Linked DNA regions of Homo sapiens. The main gene of each other region encodes a partner of the protein of the gene in region 2 in a complex. Each region holds a gene or a part of one and is shown on either strand. Other genes may lie near its edges.

Evidence for each region.
Region 1: SMARCE1 (region 2) and ARID1A share a complex: the UniProt entries of both Homo sapiens proteins name them as parts of the neuron-specific chromatin remodeling complex.
Region 3: SMARCE1 (region 2) and ARID1B share a complex: the UniProt entries of both Homo sapiens proteins name them as parts of the neuron-specific chromatin remodeling complex.
Region 4: SMARCE1 (region 2) and SMARCC2 share a complex: the UniProt entries of both Homo sapiens proteins name them as parts of the BAF complex.

Annotation. Positions count from the first base shown.
Region 1 is NC_000001.11:26,762,001-26,769,024, reverse strand, and holds part of ARID1A (AT-rich interactive domain-containing protein 1A), read right to left. Parts: intron 6,874-7,024; coding exon 6,706-6,873; intron 6,053-6,705; coding exon 5,740-6,052; intron 2,805-5,739; coding exon 2,659-2,804; intron 2,569-2,658; coding exon 2,459-2,568; intron 1,236-2,458; coding exon 1,026-1,235; intron 1-1,025. UniProt on the Homo sapiens protein: Involved in transcriptional activation and repression of select genes by chromatin remodeling (alteration of DNA-nucleosome topology).
Region 2 is NC_000017.11:40,644,817-40,652,655, forward strand, and holds the start of SMARCE1 (SWI/SNF-related matrix-associated actin-dependent regulator of chromatin subfamily E member 1), read right to left. Parts: upstream 3,003-7,839; 5' UTR 2,957-3,002; intron 1,032-2,956; 5' UTR 987-1,031; coding exon 980-986; intron 804-979; coding exon 760-803; intron 1-759. UniProt on the Homo sapiens protein: Involved in transcriptional activation and repression of select genes by chromatin remodeling (alteration of DNA-nucleosome topology).
Region 3 is NC_000006.12:156,780,376-156,787,399, reverse strand, and holds part of ARID1B (AT-rich interactive domain-containing protein 1B), read right to left. Parts: intron 1-7,024. UniProt on the Homo sapiens protein: Involved in transcriptional activation and repression of select genes by chromatin remodeling (alteration of DNA-nucleosome topology).
Region 4 is NC_000012.12:56,179,476-56,186,499, forward strand, and holds part of SMARCC2 (SWI/SNF complex subunit SMARCC2), read right to left. Parts: intron 6,766-7,024; coding exon 6,680-6,765; intron 5,637-6,679; coding exon 5,555-5,636; intron 5,462-5,554; coding exon 5,369-5,461; intron 4,770-5,368; coding exon 4,700-4,769; intron 4,456-4,699; coding exon 4,386-4,455; intron 2,605-4,385; coding exon 2,529-2,604; intron 2,361-2,528; coding exon 2,229-2,360; intron 2,123-2,228; coding exon 2,007-2,122; intron 1,627-2,006; coding exon 1,502-1,626; intron 1-1,501. UniProt on the Homo sapiens protein: Involved in transcriptional activation and repression of select genes by chromatin remodeling (alteration of DNA-nucleosome topology).

The DNA.
Region 1 (7,024 bases), on a different chromosome or scaffold from region 2:
TGGGGGAGGGGAATAAAGCCTGAAGGGAGAAGGAATTCATAACTGACTGTTGGCTGGCTTCATTCCAACCACTTTCTTTTCTGCTGGTGACAGCTGTTTTCCTCTTCTGATTTAGAAGGTTTGGAATAAATCCCTCCCTGCCACACCTCCCCGAGCTCAGCCACAAACTGATCCAACAGCAGGCTTCTGGTCTGGTGACTACAGAACATACACAGGAGGGAAGTCTGCAAGGCACAGTCTGCTGTCTGTCTGTGCTGCCTCACCTGTTTGCTTCCTGGGCTGAGTCTACAAAATTGTAAGGTATCAGAGTAGGCACAAGCTCTGGGTGGTGTCCAATTCAGGTTTTCATTTAAGTTTCCCATACAGAATAACTAAACACATAATTTCCTACTACTTCTTCCTTTATTATAAACTATTTCTACTAAGCAGTTCCTGAAATCCTATCTCTACTGGGAAGCTTCCAGGAATGGGAAGATCTACTTCTACTCTGGCTGCCTCTGTACCATCTTGCAGGCCGATTTATGTGGCAGAAACCTTGCTGAAAGCCAAAGTTATTTCTAACTTTTGACAGTCTAGTGGGTTATATACTGTTACATACTGTTTGTATTTTACAAATAATGAAATTAAGGTTCAGAGTGGTTACACACCTTAAGGTCATATATGTTATAAGTGGCCAAGAAGGGATTCAAAACCAGGTCCATCTCTCCAAATCCTGTCTTTGCTACTATGCCAAATTGCCTCCCATGGAATCAGAATGCCCACAGACTTTCCCTAGCTTTACACCTCAGTGGGACCATAGATACACGGTAAACTTACTGCTAATACCTCATACTACCAGGGAGGTCTCTGCTTCCTGCCTTATCTTCTGGGAAACCTGTGCTCCCCGGTCTATCAATATTAGACTCAGAAAGCGGGAGAGGGGATGATGTCCCTGTGGGATGCATGGTACCACATGAAGCCAGTGAGTACCTAGAAAGGGGTTTGTGGAAACCACAGGGGCAGTCAAGTGTCAGGCGCCCACTCACCTGAGTCAATCCACCAATCTCCTTCACAGACACATAGAGGCGATAGAGGTCCAGAGGTTTCCTACCCACAGCAGGCAGATTTGTCATGCCCATGGCCTTCTCCTCAGTGAAGGCCAGATAACGGTCCACCCACATCTTCCTCTCAGGCTCACCACCCAGCTCATACAACTTGGTGATCTTCTCATTGGTTGTAGTAGAAGAACTGGATTTCTGGAAGGTTCAGGTCAAAATTCATAGGAATGGGTCAGATTCAAAGCCTGTGCTAAGGGTCTCAGAAGTCTCTTGACTGGAGCAGTGTTAAAGCTTCTTACTCTGGGGTGGTTACTAACACCTGTCCTACCTTCATAAGGTTGAAGGGCCAAAAGAGAACCAAATTTTTTTTTCCTATAAAGGAAGGAAGCTAACACTAAATATATGTTATGTACTGGGTGCTGTGCTAGATGCCTTTATATATTAGGTATTATAAAATTATCCCCATTTGTAAAGATAAGGAAGCAGGCACCAGGAGGCAAAGCCTAAGATCTCACAGCTTTTAAGTGGCAGGCTGAGTATCAAATCCTTGTCCACCTGACATCAAAGCCACTACTGCTCCCACACTACTACCCAGGAGCCTGAACATACTTAGGTACTATGTTTTAGAGAAATCGAAAAACTCACAACATGATCTTGAGGCAATGGGATGGACTAAAATGAAAAGAAACTCTTTGCCTCTTCTAAACAAAGGAAAGGTTTCCCACCTGGTTGAAGGGCTTTGGATATTATCCTGTACAAGACAGGAACGTGGTCAAAAGGGCTGGGAGCCAGAGGTGAAGACTCACAGGAATTAACAGCTATGATTTTTATTTTCCCTATGTATACAGATAGGGAAAGTGAGGTATGGCCAAGGACAGAAATATTACAAATGACCCAAATGCTGAGTAGGACCCTTTACTACCGCACAGCCTAACAGTACACCCAGGACCAACCTAAGGGAAGCCAAGGACTCAAGCCTCATCTGCCTTATCTCCTTCTTTACAGAACACAGGGTACCATTCCTGCTGCTATGAGTAAGGTTCAGGAAGAGAAGAGCAACTAGTTGCCCATGGCACACCCCATCTATCAATGCTTGAGTATAGGAGGCACGGTTTCACAGAGGGCACCAGCCAAACAGTACAGAGAGTTTGATGCTGCAGTGTCTGGCATTTCCCCCATAACAAACAGCTGTGAGAATATTATGTTATTTACCAGGATCCCTTAGACCAACCCAGACCCAACTCACTGAGCTATTATTCTGGGACCTTTCATGATAAGAGGAGGCAACAGCAGCTTTTTCAGAGACTATCTAGTCCGGTGTCATAAAAGGCTGGGATCTTGTCACTCTCTTTTCTTTTTCCTTCCTATCACTGAAAAAGATAGGACACAAAGTTGAAAGGAGTCAAGACAAAAATCACTACCTTGGATTTGGATTCTGTCTTGGGTGTCCCATCTGCCTTGTTGTTCATTTTGGTGGCTGGAGTTAACTTTACATCCCCAAGGCCCATCATCTCTGGGCTGGCTGCCATCCCTGTAAAAGAGAAAAAAATTCTCAAGTCCAGTAAGTTTAGCTGTGATGTGACTCTTGAAGAAATCCCTAGTGAGAATGACTAGCACTTACCTGCAGAATTGTTGGCCATGGTTCCACCCATGGAATATGGGGGTCCCTGAGGGTTGATCATGCCAGCCATACTATTAATCCCTTGTCCATAAGGAGGTCCAGTTCCCATCATGCCCCCTTGATTCATATTGGGGTAGCCTGGCGGCCTAAGGAAGAAGATGGAAAGTGAGAGAGACAAAGGTTAGACTCTGAGCTTTTAGATTTGAACTGGAGCCAAATAGTGCTGTGTGATCATCTAGTAAGGATTAAAAGGAAAACATTTATGGGTCCCCAAAACTAGAACTATGCAACATCCAGATATTATTTTTCTTTAATTTATTTTCTTGAGACAGGGTATTGCTCTGGCACCCTGGCTGGAATGCAGTGGTGTGATCATAGCTTACTGCAGCCTTAATCTCCTGAGCTCAAACAATCTGCCTTCCTCAGCCTCCTGAGTGCCTAAGACTATGAGGCATGCACCACCATGTCCAGCTAACACCCAGATTTTCTTTTTTTTTTTTTTGAGACAGAGTTTCACTCTTGTTGCCCAGGCTGGAGTGCAATGGTGAAATCTCGGCTCACTGCAATCTCAGCCTCCCAGGTTCAAGCAATTCTCCTTTCTCAGCCTCCCAAATAGCTGGGATTACAGGCATGTACCACCACACCCGGCTAATGTTGTATTTTTAGTAGAGATGGGCTTTCTCCATGTTGGTCAGGCTGGTCTCGAACTCCTGACTTCAGGTGATCCACCTGCCTCGGCTTCCCAAAATGCTGGAATTACAGGCATGAGCCACCGAGCCCGGCCAACACCCAGATTTTCTTATCTTCTACCTCCCACGAAAGATACTAAGAGAGTTCAAGCTCTAGATAGCAAACAATAGTTCAATTTTTTTTTTTTTTGAGATGGAGTCTCGCTCTGTTGCCCAGGCTGGAGAGCAGTGGCGCGATCTCAGCTCACTGCAAGCTCCGCCTCCCGGGTTCACGCCATTCTCCTGCCTCAGCCTCCCAAGTAGCTGGGACTACAGGCACCTGCCACCACGCCCGGCTAATTTTTTGTACTTTATTAGTAGAGACAGGGTTTCACCGTATTAGCCAGGATGGTCTCGATGTCCTGACCTCGTTATCCGCCTGCCTCAGCCTCCCAAAATGCTGGGATTACAGGGGTGAGCCACCATGCCCGGCCAATTTTTTTTTGAGATGGAGTTTCACTCATCTCCCAGGCTGGAGTGCAATGGCATGATCTCGGCTCACTGCAACCTCCGCCTCCCAGGTTCAAGCCATTCTGCCTCAGCCTCGTGAGTAGCTGGGATTACAGGCGCCCACCACCATGCCTGGCTATTTTTTTGTATTTTTAGTAGAGATGGGGTTTTGCCATGCTGGGCAGGCTGGTCTTGAACTTCTGACCTCAGGTGATCCACCTGCCTCAGCCTCCCAAAGTGCTAGGATTACAGGAGTGAGCCACCGCACCCGGCCACAATAGCTCAATTTCAAAGGGTGTAATTCTTTGAAGCAGAGCCCTGCTGTGTCCTTTAAGTACTGCCTTCCTCAAAGCCACCTCCAAAGTCAAGTTGTATTTCCATTTAAGGGCCCTGTCTGTGGCAAAAGGCATAGATGAAATGCTGAACTGTACCACTTTTTGTCATGCTAAATCCCAACCAGACTGGAACCCTCAGCATAGCACCCAGAGGTGGCTTTGCATTATTTCTTGAGGGGCCCAATGCAAACTTTGCACTTCCATCATTCTGAAGTTCTACCAAATCCACCTCTTTATAGTCAATCGCCCTATTCTACCTTGGTTCATCAACAACAACTCAGTAAGATTTAGTGGCTAAAGAAGTTGTTAAACCTAATCACATGAGCCTTCTGTACTCTAGCACCAGAGTCAACACGTAGGACCACATAAAACAGTAGGAGAAATGGCAAACCACAAGCTTACCATTTGCTATTTCTAACACCAAAGATCCAAGACATATGTATCATTAAGAATCCTTTTGGAAACCAAAAAGTTGACTGATAGAAGTTAAACCACCTACTCTGAACACTTATTTTGCACATCAAAATAAGCAGTCTTTAGCCCTGGCAACACACTGAGACCCCATCTCTATTTAAAAAAAAAAAAAAAAGGCCGGGCATGGTGGATCATGCCTGTAATCCCAGCACTTTCAGAGGCCAAGGCAGGCAGCTCACTGGAGGTCAGGATTTTGAGACCAGCCTGGCTAACATGGTGAAACCCAGTCTAAAAATATAAAAATTAGCAGGGCATGGTGGCGGGTGCCTGTAACACCAGCTACTTGGGAGGCTGAGGCAGGACAATTGGTTGAACCTGGAAAGCAGAGGTGGCAGTGAGCTGAAAGTGTGCCATTACACTCCAGCTTGGGCAACAGAGTGAGACAGTCTCTAAATAAATAAATAAATATAAAAAATAAAAAAAATTAGCTGGGTGTGGTGGTGTGTGCCTGTAGTCCCAACTACTCAGAAGGCTGAGGTGGGAGGATCACTTGAGCCTGGGAGGTCGAGGCTGCAGTGAACTGTGGTCATGCCACTGCAATTCAGCCTGGGGAACAGAGCAGGGTCCTGTCTCAAAAGACCCCAAAATAAAACACCCCACAAAACCCCTTTTTTCGACAGTCTCGCTCTGTCGCCCAGGCTGGAGTGTGGTGGCGCAGTCTTGGCTCACTGCAACCTCTTCCTCCTGGGTTCAAGTGATTCTCCTGCCTCAGCCTCCCGATAGCCGGGATTACAGGCGTGCGCCACCACACCCAGCTAATTTTTGTATTTTTAGTACAGACGGGGTTTCACCATGTTGATCAGGCTGGTCTTGATTTCTGACCTCATGATCTGCCCGCCTTGGCCTCCCAAAGTGCTAGGATTACAGGCATGAGCCGCCACGCCCGGCCAAAAACCTGTCTTTTATAAAGCTCATTACATATGATGTTTAGTCACGTGAAATTTCAGACCCATCTAAGGTATGTAAGAATTAACACTTCATACACACACACCCATTTTCCCCCCCTGGTTTAGGTCCAGAAGCATCTCAATAATCTGAGTGGGTCTATAATACATTTTCTTGCACTGACACCCTCTCTGCTTCCCAGGCCTTACCTGTTTTGGATAGAGTTGGCAGCAACATGCATGGCGACAGCAGTTTCTTGGGTTTTCCGGTTCATGCCCCCTGGTGGGGGACACATCCCTGACCCAACCTGAGGTGGCATATTGGCCATGTTAGGGCCATAAGGCCGGTTGCCCATGGAGGCGTGACTCATCCTCCCTGGAGGGAGTGTGCCATAAGGTGGGATGCCAGGCTGTCCATGCATTTGACCTCCGGCACCCATGGGGTTTATGCCTCCAGCCATGCCTGCACTGGGGTAGTTGGCATTGGGCAAGGCATTATAGTTTGGCTGCCTGGGGTAGCCACCTGGGAGGGGAGGAAGACAAGACTTGGTTAGTCACTCACTAGCAACTCACTAATATCTCTCAACTCTAGAACACCAAACAATGTCATTCAATATTTTGGTTAGGAAAGAGATCAACTTCATGGTAGCCTTTATCGCCATGAGAAAAAGGGGGGGATTCCAGAAGCATGTAAAGGCAGGTCAGAGCAAGGCTGGCTTTGCTGCCACACAGGCATTTCAACTTCCAGAAGAAGATAACTTCCTTTCTATTTCCATGCTCTGTGTAAGATTCTCAACTTTTGATCAGCCTAGGGCTGCAATTTTGAGCAAAGATCTATTCCATTATGACTTATTCACTAAAAATAATTAATAAAAAAATAATAACCAAGAGCTACCATGTATAAATTGTCTGTGCTCAATGGTGGAGTAAACACCTAATCTCCATTTTTATAAATGAAACAGAGGCTCAGTGAAATTGAAAGACTTTCTCATGGTGACAGAATAAGTGGAGACAAATGGAATCTTGCCTTGCCCTACTTCAGGGCCTGGGCTGGGTGGATTAAAGGCAAAGGACAGCCCTTCTCTCACAAGGTTACAAGCTAGATGGCAACATATCAGACAAGGAACTGTTTTCTCCTCTCACCCGTATCTACTCCTAACTGGGTAGTATACTGACCTTGTGGGCCATACTGACCCCCCTGGGGACCATAGCTCCCCATGGAGTTCTGCTGGTAGGAGCCCATGCCTGTGTGTATCTGTCCTCCGGAAGGCTGACGCGGAGATAAGGCTGAGCCGGGCTGGGGGGAACTGTACTGGGGCATCTGGGGGTTCCTCTGCATATAACCTATTTGTGGGTAGCATCCATATAGTTATTAGCTTTATACAATGCGAACAAATGCTCTCCATCCTTATCCTGGGACTTTACCATCTACATTTTCTTTAGCAGCCACTTGCATGGAGTCTCTATCTGATTTTCTATATAGTGGTGTGTCATT
Region 2 (7,839 bases):
AATTTGGTCATGCTAACAGTGTTTTTTTAAAAACAAACAAAACCCCCCCTCCCAAAAAACCAACAAGGAAGCCATTTCAGCAAGACCTGAACAGTTACTGCTAAATCTGTTTTGTGGGTTGGAAAATTATTTTACATGCTGACCAAGCTGGGCCAGAGCTTCCTGGGTGAAAAAACACGTTCACAACTACTTAAAACATATATACTTCCAAACCAATAAAATATAATTTATGGAGTGGAATAAGATTCAATAGCAAGATCTGCCCCATAGATAATGAAATCTTTACTTGAACAGCTTGAAAATATTTACAATGAGTAGTTTCAGAAGCTTTATTGTTTAATATGAAAATTTTAGAGAGAGACAAGAAAGGAGAGAAAAACATAACCAGTTGAAGGTTAGGTTTAACAAAATAGCCAGAATGAGCATTCACTCAGTAACAACTTAAAGACTCTTAATAGTGAAGATTAATAAGAAAGAAATGGTAAAACTTTCACTTATTTCCCATTTACAAAGAAAAAACAAAACAAACTGAGCACAGGAGGTTGGAGTTTTACAGTACTGTTTCTTTAAATGTTGGGGTTGGTTCAAGGAAAGATGCAAATAATTATTTTATTTAGTAGGAAGTGCTTTTTTTTTTTTCTTTTAAGCTGAATTTCATCCTGTTGCTGTGATGATTGAGTGACTGTCACTGGAAGACATCTGGGTTTTTGTATCAAGGCCAGAGTTGGCTATTACATTAACAAGAAAATTAAAACTTACTGTTGCAGGAGCTGGGGTGGGAGGTGGGGCATAAGATGGTCTTTCTGTTTGAAAGAAAATAAATAACTTCTTGTAAACAACTGAGATATAATACTATGCAACAAAACTACCAATGGTCCTGTTTTGAAGAAAAAAAAATGAGAGTATTTTGGAATTCCCACTTGCTAGGGCATTAGTCTCTTATTAACATAGATTGATAAATATAAAAATTGAAACTTACTTGACATTTTGGAAGATTAAGTTCTCAGTTCCTTAAGAATGAATCTGAGACACTAAAATAAAAAAAAAAGGAAAAAAAAAAGAGAATCAAAACTCAGCAAGCATACGAGAATGTTTTCCTAATGAATAGGGTAATTTAATTGGTATTTCTGAGTAAAATTACTTCACCTTAATTCCTAGTAATTAAGCCTTTTGTGTATTTTAACTAGTTCTTATAGGTCATTTGGTTGATTAGAATTAAATGACTAAAATAAAGTACTGGGGATATTTAGAAATGTACTTTCAGGTTTTTTCTTGTGATACTAAGCTACCTCTTGTATGGAAAACATTTTGCTGACGCCATGTAAACATTTCATCAGACTGATACAAGGATGAGAATAGAAAGTGATGTATTATCAGGGTCCAACGCAACAAGGCCTACCAGATACTGACAGCTCCCTGATCAGCAACTGTATCATGCTTTTGGGATAACAATTTTTATTAAAATTAGGCAGCATTTTATTCCTGGAAGCAGTGCAAAAGGTAATTGGTATGACAATGAACTTCACATTCTCTTATAATGGTAAATAGCTTCATAAATGCTGGGAATAAATTTTGAGAGTCTACCTGAAAAACTTTTATTCATCATTCACAGCCCATTTCAAAATTTTTCTCCTCAAGGGAACTTTCTTGATACATTACCTGGGCAGAATTAACTGCTCCCCCATCTGTATTCCTATACAGTTTACACAGATCTATATTATTATAACTTTTTTTTAACTTATCAATATGGCTAGATTGTATGCTACTTGGAAAGAGGGACCATGTCAGGACCTAGCTCAATTCTTAGGAAATTTTTTCCTAGTATTACCAGCTCACAACATAACCAGGCACATGTGAGCTTGTTCTTTACATCAACATACATCACAAATAGTGAGGTACAAAAAGACAAAAATTCATCTTTGGAAAGAAGGCAAATAAACTTCTATGACTATTGGAGGTATTTGCAACCAAACATGTGGAATAGATCTGATTTTTCGCTTCTATTATTAATTTTAAGGAAATTCCCTGGAGCATAAGGAATGAGTCCTGGTGTGGAAAGAAACAGCTCATTTTCTCAATGGTCCAACCTGAGTCTTTCCCTCTTAAAGAACAGCCAGAAACCTTTGACTCTGGTGTAGATTTCCTTTCTGCTCACATTAAGGGAGCTGTCAACATCCAGCAGGCCTCGCTGCAGGGGACCCTGACAACTAACATAAGCTCCCTGTACGTTATACTTCATTGTTAATACTTTAAAATTATTGCTCTCTTTTGCTAGAATACAAAATTTAAGAGTGGGCTTGTACATTTGTCCACCGTTGGATCCATCTTTGGTGCCTGGCATAAAAATAAATACCCGATAAATATTTGTTCAAGAAATACTTTATACGGGGTACGCTTATGACACTATTTCGCTTAACACTCACAAGTACTTTATATGTACAGCTATCCCCATTTTACAGATGAAACAAGGGAGTCTCGGAAAGTTTAAACAACTTGTCTGAAGCCATATGCAGCCAGGAAGTGCCAAAGTTGGGTTTCAAACCCAGGCCAAACTATTTCAGAGCTCTGCTCGTCCTCAAGTCGCTGCCTGAACCAATGGGGGAACCTTCTGCCCGGGTGGGGGGTGAACCACGGACCTGCCTTGCCCACGGCTTCCTGAGGTCGCTCTCTTTGTCTTGGAGAATGTACTTTACTAGCAACTCCCCTAAAACGGGGTATTCACAGGTGCTTTGACCAATTTCGGGGGACTGGCCTTGCCTCCAAGGAGGGGGCCCCAGATGGGACTCCCTCCCAACCCTCGCTCTGCTAGGCCTCAAGGAGGCCTCAACCGGCTCCTGGCTCTGGCCCCACGGCCAAGGCTGAACCCCAGCAACCCCCGGGAACTCGGGGTCTAGCCAAGCGGGGACACCACGACTTGCACCCACCGACCCGGTCCGTCCCACTTGGAAACACTCACCCGCGGGCAGAAAAAGCGCCCGCAGCTCCGGCTTCGCTTCCCTTTGTCCCGCGCTCGCCCCGCCCCTCGCGTCCGGAGCTTCCGCACTCGCACTTTCCACACTCTTCTTAATTTTTTTTTTTTTCCGGGCCCCACCCGACCCTCTTTAGAAAAACTAACCTTCTAGTGAAGATGCGGTGATGCTTAGCACACTCAGGGATTTTTTTCAGGACCCATTGGATCCTCAAAACTCCCCGAATTTTGATACTTTCCCAGCCGGGCGCTGATTCGTCACGGCGAAGAGGGCCGAGGAGGCCCGACCTAACACAGAATAGGCCTGGGTTTAGCGGCTGTGAGGAGCCGGAGCCGCCGCAGCGACCGAGGAAGTGGCGGGAGGTGCCGAGCCTTGCGGAGGGGCGGTGGGGGCCGCGGTGGGAGACGGCGGATGGCGCTCAGCGCGAGGCCGCGGAACCACTGTGGCAGCAAGCAGTTCGGCCAGACTCCCGCTGAGCCCGCTCCTGGAGGGGCCCTCCCCGACTCCGGTCTTGCTTTCCTTTAGGCTGTGGGTCAGAGTCTACACTTCACTAAACCTGGGATGGAGGCGTGGAGGACTTGCTTCGCGGCGTTTGCGTCCTCGCAGGCGCCTCGCAGGGCTTCCTGCCCTCACGGCGGGGGAGTAGCTTTGGCGAAAATCAGCACGAGTTCTGCAGTTTTTCCAAGCGCTTTTAGGGTGTAATCGTCCCAGGTTTCTAAGCCAAGGCCCGGAGAGTTGACCCCCTCGCAACAGCTTGTGTGTCCTTGCAGCGCCGCGGGTGCCACCTGGTCTCCGCCTCAGCGCTGCCTCGGCTCCTTCGGTTCCCACCAGCGGGAACGACCGTCCCCACTTTCAGCTTAAACTCATCTGTCCTTCTGGATCCAGCTCAGAGGTCTCTTTGTGATGCCCTCCTGGAACTTCCCCCCTAGTAATCCTTCCTTTGTATTCCCGTGGCTCTTTGATAATAATGGTTGGAGTCCTGAACCCGACCCTTTGTATCGGACCGTGTTTGTCATCTCCAGTGCTTTATGAAGGCCTTGAAAGCAAGGTTCAGCCGTCTGTATTGGTCATCTTCCCATTGCCAGTGCCTACGAAGGGCTTGACCCATTCATTGTTAGACGCTCAGTAAGTGTGTATTGAGGCAGCCCTCTGTGCCACTCCAGGGCTCTTTCCACTAAATCATGAGTATGTTGGTTTACCAGATGGAATGAGTAGCCTCTTCTTTGGATACATAAACACCCGATGGATATTGTGGGTCACTGTGGAGGGAGAATGAACGTATGGGATCCCTGACCTGTGGTTACTGGAAAACAGTTGACATTTAGAGAGAGGCTGAATTCTTGGGCTTCCCGTAGCCCCCATCCTGAGTGTGCCAACAGGGACTAGAAGCATCTCTAGTCTGCAAAGCGAGGAACAAGTGATACTCTGTCCAATTTTTCCAATATTGTTATACTCATGAATAGAGATTAATGAAATTGAAGAGCATATTCAAGAGAAAGACTAAAGGAGAAGTCGTCTGCCCCGTGGACAGGCAGCTTGAGTGGTGCTTGAGAAAATGTACATGAAATTGCTTGTTAAAAAATATTCACGCCTGTAATCCCAGCTCTTTTGGGAGGCCGAGGCGGGCAGATTACTAGGTCAGGAGATCGAGACCATCCTGGCTAACACGGTGAAACCCCGTCCCTACTAAAAATACAAAAACAAAATTAGCCGGGCGTGGCGGCGGGCGCCTGTGGTCCCAGCTATTGGGGAGGCTGAGGCAGGAGAATGGCGTGAACCCGGGAGGCGGAGCTTGCAGTGAACGGAGATGGCGCCACTGCACTCCAGCCTGGGCGAGAGAGCGAGACTCTGTCTCAAAAAAAAAAAAATTATATATATATATATGTATATATCCATCAGAGACATGTAAAGGATTAAAGTACGATACACAAAGGCCTCAGAAGGGATTTCAGTACATTCTTTTTCTGGCTTCGTCCAGCAACTCCAGCCTGGTTTCTTCCCTGCCTTTGGGATTATGGTGGGAGGATTGGGCGAGTGCAGTGCTGGGGAGGCGCTGTGTGTTGTCTCTAGGCAGTCCTCTGAAGAAAAACTGCAGGTTTTGGATGTTAAGAATAAAGCACCCTATAGTAGGAAAGGGGTGGCCCAAAAACGGCAAAAAGGGAAAGGAGGGGACCTAAGTGGAGCAGTGACATTGTCTGATACACTTTCTCACTGGGTTTCTGCTCAGATGTCACCTTCTTAGTAGGTGTTTCCTGACCTTTTTAAAATTGCATCTCATTCCCCAACCCCCGGTGTCTGTTCATGGCCTGTGCTTTACTTTTTCTGTAGCACTTGTCGCTACCTAACATACTATACTTCTTATGAATTTATTTTGTTTTGTCTTTTTCTTCTTCTTTTCTTTTTTTTTTTGAGACGGAGTTTCGCTCTTATTGCCCAGGCTGGAGTGCAATGGCGCGATCTTGGCTCACTACGACCTCCGTCTCCCGAGTTCAAGTGATTCTCCTGCCTCAGCCTCCCAAGTAGCTGGGATTACGGCATGTGCCACCACACCCTGCTAATTTTGTATTTTTAGTAGAGACGAGGTTTCACCATGTTGGTCAGGCTGGTCTTGGACTCCTGACCTCAAGTGATCCACCGCCTCGGCCTCCCAAAGTGCTGGATTACAGGCATGAGCCACCGCACCCAGCCGTCTTTTTTTTCCCATCAGGGTGGAGATTTTGACATCTGGAACAGTACACAGCACATTTAGATGCTCAATACTTGTGGAGTAAATAAATGAATGACTCATTTTCTTCGCTTGGTTCTTTCTCTACCAAAGATTTGAAAAATTAAGAAACACCAGCCTGGCAACATAGGGAGACCCCATCTCTTAAAAAAAAAATTAGCCAGGTGCGGTGGTGCACATTTGTGGTCTCAGTTATTTGGGACGCTGAGGTGGGAGGATCGCTTGAGCCTGGGAGGTCAAGGCTGCAGTGAGCCATGATCATGCCACTGCACTCCACCCTGGGTGACAGAGGCCCTTTCTAAAAAAAAAAAAAAAGAAAAGAAAGAAGGATATAGGCAAGAGATAATAGAAAAATAATCTGTTCTCTAGTCCTGAAGAAACTAAAACTGAAGAGTGAATTATCCAGCAAGATGGACTTTACTTATTATGAGTTTTTTTCCCCCAAAGCAAACACCAGAACATATGCTCTTGCCTTTAGAAGGATATTTATGGTAACTACAGGACAGATGTTTGGAGTTGTGATTATTCCCAGAAAATTTGGGATACAGCATCAATATGACTATTTAAACTAAATATAACTATAAGGGTAGTTGGGAGCACTCACGTGGGACCAGTGGTTAACCCCAGAGATAATCTTAGGCCCAATTAAGACCTAACTTAGGCCTTAGTTTTCATTCTGGCAGCAAGATCCAGAAACGTGGCCTGCTTTCCCCTCTGACACTACTCATACTTTTTTGGGGTTCTTCTTTCCCCAAGACAGGGAAGCCAAAACTAAGTAAGCTAAGGTTCTAGTCCAGGTGTCTTTGAGTTCTTTCCATTGTTCTGTGGGAAGAAACGGGTGATGGAGACAGAGTTAGGGGTAGGACTGGGAAGAAAGGAGAAAAAAGGAGAAAATAAGACAGAATAAGGAAAAACCTGAAGTCCTTGGACACCCAGTAGTCCATGAATAGGCTCTAAGTGATCTATGAACCCTTTAAAATTATACTCAATTTTTATGGGCTTTTTTCCTGATAGGTTAATTCTTTCATGAGATTTTCAAAGAGGTGCGTGACTCAAGAAAGATTATGAACCAACCACTGAGCCATGGAGTTTGTAGTATGTTCTTTTGAAGCTTTTATAATGGATTTTTTTTTTCTTAAACAAGGGAAAGCGAGAGCAAAGCTTTACTTGACCCAAATAGCCTATGAAAGTCTGATTATAGACAACATGATGAAACAAACTAATTTTCTCAGCTGTTTCTGTGAGAGCAGAAGGAGTTATGGGTATTCTGTTTTCTGTAGCTGGAAATAGTTGTGAAATATTGAAGTTTAGCAGCTTTCCAGGACAGAGTGATCCACACTGTTTTACAGAATTTAAAAAGCACGGTTTGCTTTGAGAACCCTCTATGTTGCCCTCAAAATAACCTGGAGGATTTGGGACATGAGTGTTGCCCCATGGTGTGGAAAAGGATGAACGTTGAAAACAGGGTAGAGCTGGAGAATCTGGGTTGTGGGGTCTATTATCCACTGATAATATTGGGAGTCTAGGGCACAGTAGCCAAACGAGATTGTTGCAGGCCGTTATCTGGGCTGCCTCCTGTTTTTGTAATAAACCCTTATTTGGACACAAGCACCTTCATTTATTTACGTATTGTCTTTGGTTGCTTGTGGTTACAAGGGAAGGGTTGTGTAGTTGTTACAGGGATCCTATGGCCTGAAAAGCCTAAAATATTTGCTCTCTGGGCTTCGATGGAAAAGGTTGCCAAGCCTGGTCTAGAGTCTAAGCATGTGAGGGAAACTTGGAAAGCCTTGTACTGATTTTCACATATACCTTATTTTAGAGCCTTTATTTGTCATATGCCCACAAATATTGGCAATCTGTGTGTACATGCCGGCCATAACTTGTAAACATAGAACCAAATTCTGCCCTGTGGACAAACTTTCCTTTGATTTCATGTGTTGATAATTTGAGTAACGTGTATGCATATTGTTTAACTAAAATTTAATTTTGGCTCATGTATCATAATACATTTCCAATGGAAACTTTCAAATTAATGTAAGCATTTTTTGACTTCAGAGATTTTTTATTTTTGAGACAGGGTCTCACTCTGTTGCCTAAAGCTGGAGTGCAGTGGTGCAATCTAGGCTCACTGCAGTCTTGACCTCC
Region 3 (7,024 bases), on a different chromosome or scaffold from region 2:
TACTAAGAATTCTGGAACTGCCTCCACTAATCATCAATGCCTCGCTTTCTGAAAGGTTTATTTCAGGACCCAGAAGCAGTAGCTGAATTTACTCCTCAGCCAGCATACATTATCTAAACAGTTACCAAAAATACCCCAGCAATCCAAGTATCTTCCTAAATCTGAACAGACTGTTTTAACTTTTTTTCCAAGAATCTATGTAATGTAGAAAACTGAGAAAAAGAAAAAGGACCATTCTATATAAATTTGAAAGTGATTATATTTTCCTTCTTTTAGTTATTATTCTCGGTAGTGAATCTATATTTCGCTCTGGCACAAAGCCAGTAACTGATTGGTAGAAATGGAAAAGAGTCACTAGATCACATCAACTATATCACAACAACCTACAATTGTTGTTGACCAGATTTTGTTTTGCCAAAATATACTGCCCCACCGGAAAAAAAAAAAAAAAAAGCAGGCCAAATAGACTGCTGACCCACATGGTTGCTATCTGCAATTTGTTTAAATGAGCCAGTTCTAAGTCAATGATGTCAGCAATACCACGATCCAGGTATGGAGGGAGCAAGCGTTAGCAGTATCTCTGCATGATCCGCACACCAACAGCAGCAATCCCCAGACCCCAGCTATTGTCTGTCTCTGGCACAGGGCTGATTAAGAAAGTGGGAGCTCAATAAATATTTGCCAATTGACTGTCTGGAGTAGATATTTATCTAACATATACCTCACTGCATACACAAATGCTAAATGTTTACACCTTAAAGAAATAACTATTGCTTCCCAGTACAAGCTCTTAAGTAACAGTTCATTTCCTCTCTGTGGAAGCTGGTGTTAAAGTACATAACTGATCTTACAAAGATGTGACTACCTATCAGCATCAGCAGCAATTCCAGTACAATTCCAATACCTTACACAAACCAAAGACGCCTGTTCATGAGACTAGGCAGGATCTAGAAGTCTCCCTTCACAGCTGCCTTTAAAATGTAATTCTAAAAGGTCAATCATCTTAATTTAGTAATTTTTCCACATACAAAGAATTTCTGAAGTTTTGCAGAGGACTAAAAAGTAAAAACATGAGGGGGAGGCACAAATTTGGTGGCAGAGAACACTATGGAAAAGGACATGGCACCACCTAGACTCTGGGTTTGCTCTGGGTTGGTAGGGGTGAGATGCCCAGAAACTTCAAACACAGAAAGAATAGAAAAAAATATCACTATAAATGATTTTCACTAATAGTGGGAAAATAAAATTAATAATTTTTAAGAGACTACAAATGCAAAAGGTGAGGGAAGAAAAGCAAGGGAAAAGTGAGAATGGTAACAGTTCATTTCCACACCCTATTATCTAACCAAGTCCCAGGTTTCTCTCAACAAATACCCTCAACCTTTAAACTTTAGAAAGGTTCCAAAAAGCTGCTTTTCAAAATTTTAATAACATAACTGGCAGTGAAACTACTAACCTTTGTAATACACATCTCCAAAGAGATCCTCAAACTCTATGAGGATTACCCCAAAGTTAGAATTGAGAGGAAGTAATGTACTAATAAAAAACAAAAACAAACAAACAAAAAAACCATTAGCATCCTGATGGAATGTCTGCGGAAGAATTTACTCACAAACTATGAAGTGATAAGATTAATGGTTACAAAAACAAGATTATTTTACTTACAATACACATTAGCAGCTAACAATTTTAAAAGAAAGAGAAAAATATTTTTATTTCAGTTTGAGAAGGAAAAGTTCTGGGGATAGATGATGATGGTGACAGCCACACAACAATGACAATGTACTTAATGCCACTGGAATGTATGCCTAAAAATGGTTCAAATGGTAAGTTGTATGTTATGTACGTATAGCTTACCTCTATTTAAAAAAAAAACCATATATTTAATTTTTTAGCATCCCATTACAAAAAAAGAAAAAATGTAGCATTATGGTCCAGGATTTCTTCTGGATTTCATCAAATATGGCTTCCCTTCCAGAGTCACCTGATAAGGAATGGCTTCTGGTCTAGTTCTCCAGCTCATCATTCATCAAGGCCCAGGAAGACACTGAGAAGTGCACCTTACAGAAGATGGTCAACAGAGGGTGAATCTCCTCCAGATTCTGCTGCCATCTACCTGATTTTAATAATGGAAATAAGAGTAGCTATTCATAAACCAGATAGGCTTAAGATTTTAGGGCTTTAGTCTGGTGCCTGGTAATAAATCTCATCCAAGAAACAAGTTAATTTCATCATTAGTTCATCTGTCAAACTCAGTAGCCTTCTAATATTCTTGGCATTGATCCATACAGATGTGGGTTTGAAAACTGCCTACTGGATCCTATTTAAGTAAGTAAATCTTGCCTGGCAGGATGGTTCACATCTGTAATCCCAGCACTTTGGGAGGCCGAGGAGGGTGGATCACTTGAGGTCAGGAGTTCGAGACCAGCCTGGGCAACATGGCGAAACCCCATCTCTACGAAAAATACAAAAATTAGCCAGGTGTGATGGCGTGCACCTGTAGTCCCAGCTGCTTGCGGGGCTGAGGCAGGAGAATCACTTGAATCTGGGAGGTCAAGGCCACAGTGAGCCAAGATCGCGCCACTGCACTCCAACCTGGGTGGCAAAGTGAGACCCTGTCTCAAAAAGAAAAACAAATAACTAAATGTAAGGAAAGAATTTTCTTAGAATTACTCCAAGTCAAAGATTTTGAAAATAGAACATATTTAGTGAAAACTTACAGTGGAAACACATATTCTACTCTGAAAAAATTCACTCACTCAAAGTGAATTGCTAATTAAAACTATATAGTATATGTCTATCATTCCATTCATTCAGATGTCAGTATAAGGAAAAACAAATGAATACTTAGGACACTCAGGTAATGACTGATACCTAAGTCATTTTATCTTTACCAAATTTCCTGAAGAAAAAGTTGCTAAAGTACACCAAGTTTTTAGATCAGAATTAATTCACTCAATTACCCAATTAAACCAAAAGGGCCATTGAGTCTCATTCAAATAGCCTCCAAGCTAGAGAAAAGATATTTATAATAGTTCTACATCTATGATACAGAAATATATTCTTGGTAGAGGAACAGTTTTGCCTGGTGCCTCTCCCGGACACGACAGGGAACAGGGTTTGGGATTCCTCAGCCTCAAGCAAGCACACACAGCAAGCGTGCGGCACTACTTTACATATCCACAGAGAACCTGCAAAAACCTCCCTCCCATTCAGGAAAGGGCACCTCCGAAAAGGCATGCAACCAAAACCACCCAATCCCAAAAAGGCCTAAGAGGTGGATACGGCCCCTTGAGTAATAACAGCAGTGTAAAATGTCATAAAAATTTTATAACATCCAACTGGAAAACCTAAATATTGCAAAAAAAAAATGGAATTAAGTTTTATTAATATTTTCAGCCTCCATAAATCTGTCATTTTATGCAACACACCACACTTCTATCAAACATAAATATCAATCTCAAATTTACAAATCTACACATACACTCCAAAACAAAAGTGACACGAGTGAAATATCAGTCCCTTTTCCACCCACATGGATCAAAGCACACAACCCCATGAGCTGAGCAGTGTCAGTCCAGTGTAGAGCTGCAAGAAAAGCCTCCAGATTGAGGACACCGGCAAAAAAGCGAATACAGAGTCCTAGGCCAGCACATCCAAAATTTACATCCCCAGTGAGTCTCCAAACGGAGTAGAAAATTTCATGGAACCCTAACAAATGTTCATCAAATCACTCATCTCCTAGGAAAGGGTAGGGTTAAATAAATGAAATGATCATCTTTTCGGTTTGCCTGTGATATTGGAATTTATCCTAGGAAAGCAAGTGTTCCTATTACATCAGAAGTCATCTTTTTAGATAGATACACCCTGCCCAGAATCATAAAGAAATAAAGTCTATTAATAAAAAATAGAACTGAAAACTCAACCGCATTCTATTACACCTATTCTCTTTAAAAGGTATCTGTGTCTAATAAAACGATCAAATGAGCTTATATTAAGTCTTCCTCTACATTGTCTTACATTTTTAAAATCAGTTCTCAAATCAGAATTAATGTTTTTTTTTTTTAAATATCAGAATAAAGACGTTATTTTCTTCAATTTCAGTAAAGGAAAATGACATTCAGAGGTTAAGTATATTAGTAAAAGTGTCCAAGTGTGATCTGCATTATTTCCACATCCATAACACACTTCTGATACACTATGACATTGAGAAAAATGGAACAAGTATAAAAAGCCTTGCCAAAAATTCATGACTAAATATAGACAAGCAGAGCCAAAGCAAAGAGGGGTTAAGGTTCCTCATTATAGATTCAAGGTAAGGATGTGCTAGTCCCTAGCATATACTTACTGATGTAGTATTAATATAAACATAAACCTAAGTGATAGCTGTCTTAAAGAGTGGCTACCACTAAAAAAAAAAAACTACCAAAATATTGTCAAAAGTATGTACCACAAAAATCAGGACTCCCAATGAAAACGATTTTAAGCCATGCATAATTTCATCCCAGATGATTCAGAAAACAAAACTGCAGACATTTGTTATATTTTCTTTTCCTGTTTTTTAAATGATAGGCCCTTTCCATTAGCCACAGTTACTAAGTCCACCTTTTCTAACTATACACAGCCATCCATACTTTGGCAAATATATAAATTTAGGCCACAAAAATTTGTTTACAAGATTTAAAATATCAGACACCCTAAAATTTAACTGGGAGTGATTTTATCAAATAATGTATCTCACACACATTTTAAGGTAATCAGGAACCAGTTTGTAGCTTCCTGCTTCGCATGCTAGCTAATCACTTTTCTTCTAATGGTAAATAAGGCCCTTTTCTTAATACATTGTACTACGTTTTATAAAACTAAAAGTTAAAACTGCATTTATGGAATTCAGTAGAAATGTGGACATCATAAAACCTATGTGCGTGAGTAGACCTCAATATTCCTTTTGAGACTGCTCCATCTGAATACTCATCTTACAAAAATCTAGTAATAAACTGAATCGTCAAATGGCTTATTTCACTTTTTAAAAAGACCCTTCTCCTATAATATATACACGTTTTGTCCCAATTACGAAAACATTTGCCACCCAATAGAAACTATTTCCTGAAATCAAAAATGAAACTAAAAACATATTAAAAGCCAAAATATTTCATCATTTAACAATGTGATTTAATAGCATTTCATGACCTACAGTCAGGCAGTAATTTAATATTTTGGACAAATGACTGTTTCTTAGTATAATTACAACAACTAATACTAAATAATACTAACTTCCAAAAAGAAAAGAAAAAAAAGGATTGTAAAAAAGACACATTCCACATGTTACACGGTAAGGTACTTAAAAGAAATTCCTGAATCTAGGTCGCATGTCCATATTTCCCCCAACCTCAACAAAAAAAAAAAAAAAAAAAAAAAAAAAAAGCCTATTCCCAAGGGTCATAGGGACATAATGGATTCATTCTCATTACAAGAAAACAAAATACTGAAAATGATTGGTACCATTAAGAAAAAAATACTCTAAAGTAACATGGTCCTACATCTGCCTCTAACTTCATTCGTCTCTAGTTTACGAAGATGTGAATTTTAAACTGCTCCTTTAAAAGCAGGCTGACAAAGCAAACCTTTTTAAAATTAATTACGTGGGTTTATTTCCATGATTCTTCTCTATAATGTTTTTCCTCGTGTGAATCAAAAACAAGTTGAAATCACAAGTTTTCTATTAAGAATAGAAAAATCTATTATCCTTAAAAGCAAAACTCCAATAACTAAAGATCTGAAAGCAGTGGACAGCAGTGTTCAGCCTAGGATTCACAAGATTATTTGTTAAATTCAGCCCTTCCTTCACTCTGACAAGTCTCTAAGGTATGATTATTGTTAAAATACCTCTTCCTAAAATAAATGAGTTACATAAAAATATACATACAACGACTGTTGTTCCTCTCTAACAGATTAGGATTTTTTAAACTTTCATAGCATTAACATGAAAGAAAAATTATTTGGAAAAAAAGACACCCAGCACAACTTGCTTAGAATATAGTTTCCCTAATTCATCGTGTAAGCAGTTCAAACAAGGCTCAAATTACCTAATCTAACAAAACAATGAAGAAAAAAAAAAGATTATGGGGCATTTCTGTATTCTCCACATCAAAAGCAAATATGAAATGATTCTTAGTATTTCACAGGAATATCTCATTTTTCCCCTTTTAATTATTGTTATCTGCACAAATATGTGGTTTCCTCATTTCGTTTTTTAAATATGTCAATTCTAACCAAAACTCCTCATCCACAAATATCTTTGAACAGTCAGAACTGATAAATCACAAAAAAATGAAGCTTAAATCTTGTTTATCAGGTGAATTACACATCACCAAAATATATTGCTGCCTATCAAAATCTTAAAAAAATTTTAAGGTTTTATTAAGCTGCGTGTGCTGACAGAATTCAAATTTTTCCATAGTTGAATTTGTAAAGGGAAGACTTTTATAAAGGCTTTACAAATCCAAAAATTGGTAAAATTCGTGGTTTACTTATTTTTCAATGGCCTTATCCTCAGCCTCCAATTAAAGTCTATGATATATGTAATGTGCATATTCTAAGACTATCATCAAAGATCTGAATTTTGTAAATGCCCAATACTGGACACCAGCGAACTGTTTTTCTGTATTTGATCCTCTTATTAATAACTATGATTCATAATAGTTTCAGCTTTAAATACTGAACCTTACATTTGCTTGTAATAGAGCTCAGTTATTATTTGTGGCAAGAATTTTTGTGACTGTACTGCTCAGCACTTCTATTTACATCAGCAGTGCTAAATGCCCAATGGTGAGAGGGGAGCCAATCAGATGGCAGATTAGATGTCAACTCAGAGGCAGCTGTCTGGAGACTATTACAGCCAGTTTACCTCCACAATTCAAATTCCAAACCTTGCAAAGGAGATCAAGTCAGTCTTTAGGCTCAGCCTACTAGCAAGAAACAGCAAGAGTGCAGGACACTTCCTAACAGCGCTGTAGGACTCGGG
Region 4 (7,024 bases), on a different chromosome or scaffold from region 2:
ATTGATGAGGAGGTAGAAGCCAGAACTCTTCTTGGTGGCAGCCCTAATCCTACCCCTGAAATACACTTCTGGAATACCTGGGGTGAGTCTACAGAATACAGACTGTAAACCAGTATTGGTGGAGCAATGTCTCCAAAGTGGGGTTCTAACATAGGACGCAAAAGATGATCCACTGCAACTCAGGGAGAGAATACAGAACTTCTCTTCATGTTTTTTGTTTTGTTTTTTTGAGACGGAGTCTCGCTCTGTCGCCCAGGCTGGAGTGCAGTGGTGCGATCTCGGCTCACTGCAACCTCCACCTCCCAGATTCAAGTGATTCTCCTGCCTCAGCCTCCCGAATAGCTAGGATTACAGGCGCCCACCACCACGCCTGGCAAATTTTTGTATTTTTCGTAAAGATGGGGTTTCACCGTGTTAGCCAGGATGGTCTTGATCTCTTGACCTCGTGATCCGCCTGCCTCGGCCTCCCAAAGTGCTGGGATTACAGGCGTAAGCCACCGCGCCCTGATTCTTCATGTTTGTTTTTATCATTCTTTACATTTTTCAATTTTTTAGATATGTTTGTGTTTTAAAACGTTCCCATGGTAGCGGCTTAACAGTACAAGTACATAATTAATGCATATATACATTTTTTTTTCTTTTTTTTTATTTGAGATGGAGTCTCGCCCTGTTGCCCAGGCTGGAGTGCAGTGGCGTGATCTCAGCTCACTGCAAGCTCCGCCTCCCAGGTTCACGCCATTCTCCTGCCTCAGCCTCCTGAGTAGCTAGGACTACAGGCACCCGCCACCACGCTCAGCTAATTTTTTTGTATTTTTGGTATAGACAGGGTTTCACCATGTTAGCCAGGATGGTCTCGATCTCCTGACCTCGTGATCCGCCCACCTCGGCCTGCCAAAGTGCTGGGATTACAGGCATGAGCCACCGTGCCCGGCCCTTTTTTTTTTTGAGATGGAGTTTTGCTCTTGTCGCCCAGGCTGGAGTGCAGTGGTACAATCTCGGCTCCCTGCAACCTCTACCTCCCAGGTTCAAGCAATTCTCCTGCCTCGGTCTCCCGAGTAGCTGGGATTACAGGTGCCCACCACCACGCCCAGCTAATTTTTGTATTTTTAGTAGAGATGGGGTTTCACCATGTTGGCCAGGCTGGTCTCGAATTCCTGACCTCAGGTGATCCGCCCGCCTCGGCCTCCCAAAATGCTGGGATTACAGTCATAAGCCACCGTGCCTGGCCATGCTCAAATATATTTTACTGTCAGAAACACATAATCAAAGAGTTTGGAGACAACTACTATCAGGCACAAAGCACAGTCCACAACTCAGATATGAATATACAGTTAGAGGATTTTCCAGGGTAATGACCGTAATTCCAATAACCAGCTAAATTTAAGGAAAAGATCCTGTAGACTGGGAGGTGGACCTGAGAAATCAGCTCACTTGGGGTTTGGCAAAGGAGAGTCAAGACGGGGAGTGGGGGTGGATCCCAGGAGCTCAGCCTGGCCTGTACCTGTTTTGGGAAGTGTCACCTCTTCTACATTGGGGACTGGTGAGGGCTCGTCCATGTCCTTTGTCAGGTCTTCTTGCTCCTCTTCTCTGTGGCCACGCTTTGACTTAGTGTAAGGTGTTGAGGGACTGGGAAGGAAAGAGAGTGAAAGAGAACCCAGTCATCCTTGGACAAGGAGTCCCTGGAAGTTGAAGTTCAAGGGAAGGGAAGTGACAGAGAATTCCAAGGGTAGAGCTGAGTACAAACAGAAACCAGTAATCACACAGTAATGGGAAGTGGCAAAGGCTTTTCACTTGATAAAGCTCTCTTTAAATGTACTAGTGGGGCCAGAACCAGAACTAACAACTGAGCAGCTAAAGATCTCCTCATCTTCCCTCTCAGGACACCTGCAGTATTATGGCACACCCAGGTCAGGGCCAGGTGGTTATAGGAAGGGATTTGTCTTTCCTTCCTTCAACATGATGTGGAGAGAATGGTGAACACGGGGGCAGGCTAGGGGCTGGCACACCCTTTCTTAGCATTTTTCTTCTTTGCTTCTGGGGTTGGTGAAGGAGAGGGGGAGCGCTTCCTCTTCTTATAGTTTCCCCCCTTCTTGTCCCGTCGATCTGAATCTGGGCTGTTCACCTATAGGATGGAGAATCAGGACAAATGTCAGCCTACAATCCCCACTGAAGATTTGTTCTGAGACTTATGCTAAGGGCGCCAGGAAAAAAAGAACAGGATTTGTCACCTCATCTGTCAGTGTCTTGGCTGAAATCTTCTTTCGGCGGGAGACAGGGTTTTTGTCATCATTTACTTCATAGTCTTCCTCATTCATCCATTCATTGAAGGTGTCGGTGTCCAGGATCCACTTTGCATGAACCTAAAGTACAAAGGCAGATCATGCTGCAGAGAAGCCTGGAAGCCACAGCTCTGTCTGGGGACCCTTAACAGAAAAAGCTCAAGGGCATACAAGCCTCTGTTTCACTTCCAAAGGGTAGACTGTTCCTGGCATTCTTTTTGGGGAAGAGGGGATACAAGAAAAGCTCACCTTCCTAGGTTTCTCAGGAGTTGGAGCATCTTCCACAGATGCCTCAATTTCACTCGCTGGGATCCACGTGTCGTAACTGCCATGGGAAATTGAGCACACAGTAGAATCAATGGGATAGAATTGTGGAAAAGTAAAGTGCAGATCTTTTACCCTTTCCATTTACAGAAAGTATTGGGTTCTTGGCTTATTTTTTTTGTATTCTATTCATTATAAAGTAGTAAAAGCACATTACGAAACATTTCAAAAATAGAGAACAAAAAGAATCACCCTTACGTAACTACTCTTGATACTTGTATATCTGTTTTTCCTCCACAGTAATTTTTTTTTTTTTTTGATACAGAGTCTTGCTCTTGCTCTGTCACCCAGGTTGGAGTGCAGTGGCGCGATCTCGGCTCACTGCAACCTCCGCCTCCCGGGTTCAAGCGATTCTCCTGCCTCAGCCTCCCGAGTAGCTGGGATTACAGGTGCCTGCCACTGCGCCCGGCTAATTTTTATATTTTTAGTACAGACGGGGTTTCACCATCTTGGCCAGGCTGGTCTCAAGCTCCTGACCTCGTGATCCACCCACCTCGGCCTCTCAAAGTGCTGGGATTACAGGCATGAGACACCGCGTCCAGCTGGGGTTTTTGTTTTTGTTAAGACAGGGTCTCACTTTGCTGCCTAGGCTGGTCTTGAACTTCCAGCCTTTAGTGATCCTCCTGCCTTGGCTTCCCAAAGTGCTAGTATTATAGGAGTGAGCTACTGTGCCTGGTCCACAATTTTCTTTTTACATAATCATAACCATACTAGATGATGTTTTTACATAATCATAACCATACTAGATGATATTTTACATGCTTTTTTTTTTTGAGACAGGGTCTTGCTCTATTGCCCAGGTTGAAGTGCAGTGGTGCAATCATGGCACAATGCAGACTCAACCTCCTGGGCTCAAGCAATCCTCCCACCTCAGCCCCCCAAGTAGCTAGGACTACAGGTGCATGCCACCATGCCCAGCTAATTTCTGTATTTTTTTTTTTTGTAAAGACAGGGTTTCACCATGTTGCCTAGGCTGGTCTCAAACTCCTGGGCTCAAGCAATCTGCCCACCTCAGCCTCCCCAAGTGCTGGGATTATAGGCATTAGCCACTGCACCCAGCCTACGTGCTATTTTTTGTTTTGTTTTGTTTTGTTGAGACAGAGTCTCGCTCTGTCGCCCAGGCTAGAGTGCAGTGGTGTGATCTTGGCTCACTGCAACCTCTGCTGCCCCGGTTCAAGCGATTATCCTGCTTCTCAGCCTCCTAAGTAGCTAAAACTACAGGCGTGTGCCACCACGCCCTGCTAATTTTTTTTTTTTTTTTGTATTTTTAGTAGAGACGGGGTTTCAGCATGTTGGCCAGGCTGGTCTCGAACTCCTAACCTCAGGTGATCCGCCTGCCTTGGCCTCCCAAAGTGCTGGGACTACAGGCGTGAGCCACCATGCCAGGCCTACATGCTACTTTTTGCAATTATTAATAATATTCACTTATAAATTATCCATGTTATATCACTTTAAAGACTGCATAATAGTCCACTGAGTAGATATACAAATTTACTGAAACATTTTCCTACTGTTAGACATTTAGATTGTTTCTAACATTTACTTATCGAAAATGATGCTGGGATAATCAATTCACACATAAAGCCTCAATCCTTTTAGCCCAAGGCTTGTCCACTAAGTCCAAACCTCCCCCAAGACAGAGGTTCACTTACTAGGTGAGAGGAAAACAAATTAAGTGATCTAAAAATAACTCTGAAAGAGTGGCCTCTTGCTCTGCTAGATGTCCTAGGGCTTCTGGGTCTGGCTCTTATACTTAAACCTGCCCCAGGAACCCATCCTCACCTGTCAGGATAGTAGCCCCAGTGCAGAAGAACCTGCTTATCCCTCTTCATGACTGGTCGTACCCATTCCTCTGGGGATAGAGGAAGAGAAGGGAGAGATATAAGCTAAAGGGGGACACAAAAAAAATACTGTACAAAAGCCCTAACTAATGCACTCTCCTGTTGTAGCAGGGGACTTGGTAATAGGAACTTAAGGTGGTAAGAGGATTCAAGATTGAAAGAAGAGGAGGAGCCCAGGTACTGAATGGTGATCTTAGTCCTCTGCCTCCTAGTCCAAACCATCCACTCAAGTGGACAGGAAAACCCAGGTCTCACCTTCTTCTAGATTCCCCGGGACAGGATACACAACATGGGAGGCATTGTTCTTATCCTCAGTGACTGTTCCCTGGATGGTAAAAGGAGAAGCGGGTAAATTATGGTCCCCTCTGAATTACTCAAGGTTTAGCCACAGAGCTGCCTTCCTAACCATATTTTGCTTATAATAGTATTAAAGTTAGTTTGTATTCTCTAAGCACACACCAGCTAAGTGGCAGAGGGAAACAGCTGGGATTGTGCTAATAATGGAGAAAAGTCAAAGAATTAAAAATTGCCAAAAATAATCTTCTGAACAGATAATCTATACATGGGAAATTTAAAGTCCACTGTACATCCTTATCAATGACATCTATTCATTACTATAAAGTTCCAAAGAGCAGGAATTTCATTTATCTGAGATCACGCAATCTCTAGCTCAGTAGAAGTGGATACTATTTTTCCCCAGGCCAACATAGTCTCTAGAACAGTAATGCAAACCTGTCAGGACTGAAAAATGGGAGAAGCAGACAGAAAAAGACAGACTCAAGGCTTTAACTCAAGTCTTTTTCCAAGTAGACAGAGCCACCTCTGAAGCAGAAAACATGGTAATTCAGGGCTGCTGCTTGGTATAGAAAACACTGGGAAAACAGTCATGGAGTTTCTGAAACCTCTCCTCACCAGACCATTTACCTGGTGTCTCTTGATAATGTCCTTTAATTTCCCTAGTAGTTTGGGCTCAATTTCTGGGCACAGAAAAATGTTAGGTCGAGACAGGCAATTATTCTGTGGAGAGAAGAAATAGAATGAGATTATAGGAAAGGGGTGTTTTAGATTCTCACTGAGGGAAGGGAGATAAATAGGGTATATGCCTATTACCTGCACCAAGGACTTCTCAATGGTCATAAACATTTCCACATTGCGGTCCATGCGTGATGGATTCTGGAAATCGTAACGCCGCCTTGTGAAGAGGCAATAATCTAGTGAGTGGTATAGCTCAGGTCTGCAGATGAGGTGAGGGCACGTGACTTTTTTGTTTGTTTTTTGAGATGGAGTCTTGCTCTGTCACCTAGGCTGGAGTGCAGTGGCGCGATCCCGGCTCACTGCAACCTCTGCCTCCCAGGTTCAAGCAATTCTCCTGTCTCAGCCTCCCCAGTAGCTGGGACTATAGGCACACACCACCTCACGTGGCTAATTTTTGTATTTTTAGTAAGTAGAGACGAGGTTTCACCATATTGGTCAAACTGGTCTTGAACTCCTGACCTCAGGTGATCCACCTGCCTCGGCCTCCCAAAGTGCTGGGATTACAGGCATGAGCCACCACACCCGGCCTTTTTTTTTTTCTTGAGAGGGAGTCCCGCTCTGTTGCCCAGGCTGGAGTGCACTGGCGCGATCTTGGCCAGCTGCAACCTCTGCCTCCTATGTGCAAGCCATTCTCCTGCCTCAGCCTCCCAAGTAGCTGAGACTACAGGTGCCCGCCACCATGCCCGGCTAATTTTTGTATTTTAGTAGAGATGGGGTTTTGCCAAGTTGGCCAGGCTGGTCTCAAACTCCTGACCTCAAATGATCCACCCACCTCGGCCTCCCAAAGTGCTGGGATTACAGGTGTGAGCCACTGCGCCCAGCCATGACTTCTTAATATGGGAAATTAGGAGGCAAGCTTGCTCACAGCTATTGCCAAACATCACCTGGGATCTGAGGTTCACTGATCTCAACTCCATGAATCACTCTCTGTGCTTACTTCAAAGGGACAAAAAAAGGTTTGAGATGCCAACCTAAGAATCCCTTTTCCTCTACAAAACACACAGTGATACTCACACACTCACTCTTGGAGACTGTTTTGGCTCTGACTCCCAACCATCTTCCTGACGTAGTAAGTCAGGTCTACTGACCCAGCAAAATAAAGAGACTCACAAGAATTTCTACCCCAGAAAGATCCCAGGGAATCAAAAAGGGGGATTTCCTCTAAACTAAATATAAGAAGAATAGAGAGAATCATCTCACCATCCCTGGTCACTCTTGAATTTGTAGGCAGCTGCAAGAATGTGGCACAAGGAGCCTCCCGCTTTGAAATCTAGGAAACATTTGATCTACAAAATCAAGATACGGAAAAAGCATGTCAAGGTTCCACTGTAAATTCTCTCATCACTTAATAATCTAATAATCCTTTCACAAAATCCCATGCTGAATTGATCTCCCTTTTTTTTTTTTTTTTTTGAGATGGAGTTTCACTCTTGTTGCCCAGGCTGGAGTGCAATGGCGCGATCTTGGCTCACTGCAACCTCTGCCTCCCAGGTTCAAGCAATTCTCCTGTCTCAGCCTCCTGAGTAGCTGGCATTACAGGCATGA